Linked DNA regions of Homo sapiens: region 2 is linked to region 1. The links come from fine-mapping of genetic effects on gene expression. Tissue or cell type: left ventricle. Region 1 holds a variant in brackets; the other region holds the start of a gene. All regions are shown on one strand. Distances are from middle to middle.

Region 1 (2,820 bases):
CCGGGCGCTCTCTGGACCCTCCAGGTCCACGGCGGACAGAGCAGGAGGCAGGCCTCTGACATGAGGCCAGAGCCCAGCTGGGGGCAGTAAACGGCTGTGGAGGGAGCACTGGCCTTGGAGTCAGGAGAGTCAGGAGGCCGGGATCTCCCCTAAGCTCTGTCATCCCGAGCTGCATGGCCTCTGGCACTCCTCGCAGAGGCCCTTGTCCAGTCGAGGAGGCACGGTCGGCTGAGATGATGAATCTAGAACACGCTCTGCAGTCCAGCAGCACCGTGTGAGTCGGGCTGTGCTATGCCTTTAGCGGCCAGCCCTCTCACCCACTGCCGTGGTGTAGCTCTCACAGCCCAGCCCAGAGGAGAGGCAGGCTGCAGTCCCGGGGCTGCCCCAGCTCGTGGACTGGGGTGGGCGACAGATTTCAGTCACCTGCTTTACAGTTTTAAAACAGAGGAGGAGTCCTCTTTGGACCCTTGTCTTCTGATCCCCTGCCCACCTGGGGGAGGCTTGGTCTTCGTGACCTGTGACAGGGTTAGAGCCCAGTGGTCCCTGGCGTTAGGCCTGCCACTGGCAGCCACTGCCCGATACACCAAACACACTTTCCCGCCCAGCCAACCTGCACAGTCCCCAGGCAGTGGCTGGGAAGTGGGGGAGAGAAGCCGAAGAGCCTGCGGGTGGTGGTGGCGAGCCCCTGAATACCACGACCACCGCCAGCGTGGACCTCTGCAGCGGCGATACCACTCCACACCCCAGAGCCGCCACGGCATCCCCCCTTCCGCCTCGTGGGTCTCCCTGAATTTCCTCCTCAGCTGTGGCCCCCTGCGTTCCTGGCTTCTCGTCGTTCTCTTCCCTCCCACTCCACTCATCTTGAACACTCTCTGTAGATCTATTGATGCTATCCCTGACAACCAAAAGTTTAAGCAGTTGCAGAGGGAGCTCTCTCAAGTGCTGACCCAGCGCCAGATCTACATCCAGCCTGATAATTAAGCCGATCCAGGTACCCTGCCTGAGAGCCGCGAGACCCTCCCCACTAAAACAGGACTCACCAACCCGCCGAGACCCTGCCGGTCCGGCTGCTGCTCCGCGGCCATTTAAACCACCACTAACCCCCACGT[G/A]TGCTCCCGGTCGGTGCACAGCCACATTCCCGTGTAGCCTCGGCCCCATGTAACACGGCACCTATCACGTGTGTGTGCTTTCCACTCTGGGTGGAGGCTGGGTGTGGGGAAGACGGCTGATTTTTTGGCTTTTGCTTCTGAAGAAGCCCAGGCCAAGGGACGGATGCTGCCTCTCCAGCAGCAGCCACTTGTGTGCACCGGCCTGACTGTCCCCAGGGCAGGGATCTGCCTGCCGTCCACCCCCCCATGCTTCAGAGGAGCCTCTGATGCTGGTGCAGGGATCCCAGAAGCCACATAAGCCTCCCCGCTGCTCAGCGGCACATTGCCTGTCCAGGGCTAGCTGGCTTGGAAGGGGTGACCTCACTCTCTGATCTCTGAGTCTCTGGGGTTGGAGGGCAGAGTCAGGGCTGGACTCCACCCTGGCTGGCCCAGATGCTCTGCTGGAGCTGCCTGGACGCCCAGTGCCGACTCGGCCACAACCAGCATAACCTTCCGCCCCTAACGAGCTGCAGCTGTTCCTTTAAACAGGTTTCGCTAATGGAAAGGAAAATAGTCTTGCTTGTTGGTAATGGCCAAGAACCATGACTTGAGCTTGTGACAGATCCAGATGTAGGGAAGGAGGCAGCATCCCTGGAGAGTAGGAGGGAAACTTGTTTGTAAAAAGAAGGCATTTGGAACCCTGCCAACTGGGGCTGCAGAGCCCAGGTCCAGGGGCTGCGCACTGAAGGCCCACCCCAGAAGGGGTGCAGCAGACTTTCCAAGGTGGAGGTGGGGTCAGGCACTTAGAAAACCAGGTGGAGCTGCTTTTCCGAGGCCGTGGGACTTAAGTGCACCAGTCTGGTCTGTGTGTGCCAACTTAAGGCCCACGACTCGGGTCAGCCTCACAGTGTGGCCATCAGGCATTTCCATCATGGCATTGAGAAAAAACTCTTTTTAAGATACACCGTGATGGTGCAGTTCCCTGGCCGCCCACTGGGGGCGTCCTGGCGTAGAAACCCTGGCAGCCAGGTCTGCTCAAGATGACTCCTCCCTCCCACAGAGTCGAGCACTGTCTCCAAGCGCTGATTCGAGGTTGCTTGGCCGTGACCTTCCCAAGCATTGTCCCTTAAATAAGCCCCCTGCTCCTTCCGCCTTCCACCATTTCACTTCTAACTTCCTGTGTCTAACATGATTCTAGCTCTGGAACTTTCTCCTTCGTGTGATCCAGCCAAGACCTGGCGGGCTTGGCTCTTCCTTCCCAGAAGAGCCAGTGACCACCCAGGCTAGAGGTCCTGTGCGCTGCTGCTTTGCCCGCCGCATCTCCCGCTGGCCATGTTGACCTCCCGCTGTGAGCTTGGCAAGAAGCCCCTGGGGAATCGGCTGAGATTTGGAGCCTGGGGGCCGTGGGGGCTGATGCCTTTGGCCGCCGCAGAGCCAGGGACAGTCCTGGGAAGATACTCAGAAACGTGTATTTCCCCAGCATGAACCAAATGTCTGCGTTTCTCCTGGGAGTTTTTTCAGTTGTATGCAGCTTGCTTCCAGGTCTTGTCTTATGGCACCTGCTGAGTATTTTGAGGGCTCTTCCTGTGACTTGTAGGGATTCGGTAGCCAGAACTCAGTCTGGGTGCTGTTGCTTCTCCTGGGCCCTGCTTCACTTCCATTTGCCCATTTTTGCTTCTGGGGATTGATTTTTCTGATTCTTCCTTCCCATGGCTGGTGTGAATCAAACGTG
Region 2 (2,500 bases), 640 kb before region 1:
CCAGTCAGCAGCAGGGCCCTAGGTCTCCATCCCTGCAAGGGGCTCTAGAGTGTAGGGAACAGATGGAATGTTCACAAGCACCACAGCCCCTGCCACAGTGACTTTTTTAGGACTGGTATCGCAGAGTGTTTACTTAAGGCGGTGGAAGCTAAATTCTTAGCATGTGCTGGAGAGCAATGAAAAAGATATTTACTTTATGAATTAAAGCTGGAGTCAGTGTCAGCCCGAAGGCTGAAGGAAAAAGAGCAACAGATCCAGGGAGCATTCACCTGCCCTGTCTCCAAACAGGTGAGGATGGGGAATAAAGTGAAGGCAGTGCTTTGGTGGGAACTTCAAGGATAGCCTCTGGCTTTTTCCAGGTTTAGAAGCTCATATGAGACAGGGGTGGAGGAAAAGAAGAAAGAAGAATAAGAAGAGAAAGTTGAGGCCCTGGCCCAAGTTAGTGGGAAGGGAAATCCACCCCCATTAAACTCTCTCCCTGGTGGACTGTGGGGTGCACACGTGAGGCCTGCACAGGTGCTGGAACATGGTAGAGGCCCAGGACATACTTCCTGTGAATGAATGATTGAGCGGCTGAATGAATGAGTACCACTAAAAGCCCTCTTTTCTATTCCCAAATGCCACATTGAGCAGAAGGGAGCAATCCTTGCTCAGCAATTGGTAGTCCCTTTGGGTGTGCAAATGAGTCCACAGCCTGCAACAGCAGACAGTCTCTGCCCCCCTTAGAGGCGATTGCAGGGAGGTGGCTGACCGTTGATCACACCCAGAGCTGGTTATGGGAATTTACTCCATGGAAAGACTGCAAAACTGCCTGAAATGTGTTTTGGCATCAGCTACTGACACGTAAGGTTTCCCAATCCTCAACTCTGTCCTGCCAGCTGATGAGGGGAAGGAAAGGGATTACCTAGGGGTATGGGCGACCAATCCTGAGTCCACCAACTGACCACGCCCATCCCCAGCCTTGTGCCTCACCTACCCCCAACCTCCCAGAGGGAGCAGCTATTTAAGGGGAGCAGGAGTGCAGAACAAACAAGACGGCCTGGGGATACAACTCTGGAGTCCTCTGAGAGGTAAAGAGCCAGCGAAGCTGATGTCCTGTCAAGAGCAGAATTCCTGCTCATTCGCTGCCTTTGAGAGTGGCTGTGTTGTGCATGCATGTGCATGATTTGATATGTATGAGAGGGTGTGTGTGCATGAGTGTGTTGAGTGAGTATGTGAGTGTAGTGTAAGAGAGGATGTTGGCACTATCAGGTAAGTACGAGAGTGTGTGTATGTGGGCATAGGTGTGTTAACATGTATGTGTTTGGGAACTTGTGTATGTGGAAGGGGTTAGAAGGCCTAGAAGAGAGAGGTTGATGCTTTCATTCTGGAGGAAAATACTGAGGCCGAGCCTCCATGGGTGCCTTGGAGACTCCAAGCCTTGAATCCAGTGTGGGGATATGCAAGCTATGTCTAGCGAGGGACACATCCTCTGACCTCAGGAACCTCCCAGGTAGTTGGGAGGAACCTGGTTCCAACCTCCCAAGAACTCTCAGTCTGATGAGGTACAGGGGAGGTCTCATTAGTGTATCATGGGGTTCTCCACAGGTCTGAGGGCCTGATGTGTGTGAAACCATTCTGCAGAGCTGGGAACGGGTCAGGAGGTGGTTGTGTGTGTGTGTGTGTGTGTGTGTGTGCATTGCTGGAGGGCACTCCTTGTGTGCTCTGAGTGTGACAGAGGAAGTCACCCTGGACTTAGGTTGGATGGGAGAGCATGTCTGTGTGTCTCAGAGCCACCAAGGAGGAGCAGGGGAGCGACGGCCGGGGCAGAAGTTGAGACCACCCAGCAGAGGAGCTAGGCCAGTCCATCTGCATTTGTCACCCAAGAACTCTTACCATGAAGACCCTCCTACTGTTGGCAGTGATCATGATCTTTGGTAAGAGCTGACCCTGACCTCTGAGCATGGGGGGACAGCCCCAGAAGGGAAGCACTCTTGTCCCTTAGTTTTCTCTCCCATTGCAGTGATCCTCTCTCAGGGGGAAAAAAGAAGCCATTTGGGAGGAAGGAGAGTAGCAGAGAGGGGCAGAGAGGGAGGGCGCAGAACCCCATGCCCCATCACCAGACAACTCCCAAATTTCCTTCCAGGCCTACTGCAGGCCCATGGGAATTTGGTGAATTTCCACAGAATGATCAAGTTGACGACAGGAAAGGAAGCCGCACTCAGTTATGGCTTCTACGGCTGCCACTGTGGCGTGGGTGGCAGAGGATCCCCCAAGGATGCAACGGATCGGTGAGGCCACCTATCCCTCCCTACCCTCCTAGACTCTGGCCCAGGCAGGGCTGGGAGCTGCAAAGACAGTGCCGGTTCCTGATGGGCGCAGAGGTCTCAGGATGGCCTGGCTGGAAAAGCAGCCGGCATGTTGGAACTTCTGCTCTAGACTGTTGCAAAGTCACTGGGTCTCTGCCCAGGGTCCAAGGGGGTGAGACCACAGGCACCAGGCCTCCTGGAGCTGTGGGACA

Direction of the effects. Alleles are on the strand shown, and positions count from the first base shown. SD is a standard deviation of normalised expression in the study named.
For the expression in left ventricle of the gene that starts at base 1,032 in region 2, G is the high allele of the variant in region 1 and A is the other (large effect, 0.90 SD a copy in GTEx).

Evidence for each region.
Region 2: it holds the start of PLA2G2A, and the variant in region 1 is fine-mapped to the expression of PLA2G2A in left ventricle (GTEx, PIP above 0.99).

What each region holds. Positions count from the first base shown.
Region 1 is chr1:19,340,923-19,343,742 of GRCh38, reverse strand. The region is part of intron 8 of CAPZB (capping actin protein of muscle Z-line subunit beta); the gene reads left to right. Among named protein-coding and RNA genes, the nearest start is that of SLC66A1, 30 kb to the right of the region's middle. RefSeq lists an enhancer at 2,017-2,820. The variant G/A (reference allele first, on the strand shown) is at 1,110.
Region 2 is chr1:19,978,150-19,980,649 of GRCh38, reverse strand. It overlaps PLA2G2A (phospholipase A2 group IIA), which reads left to right and starts at 1,032. Exons shown (of 5, transcript NM_001395463.1): 1 at 1,032-1,070; 2 at 1,771-1,916; 3 at 2,126-2,270. The coding sequence starts at 1,877. RefSeq lists an enhancer at 1,889-2,388.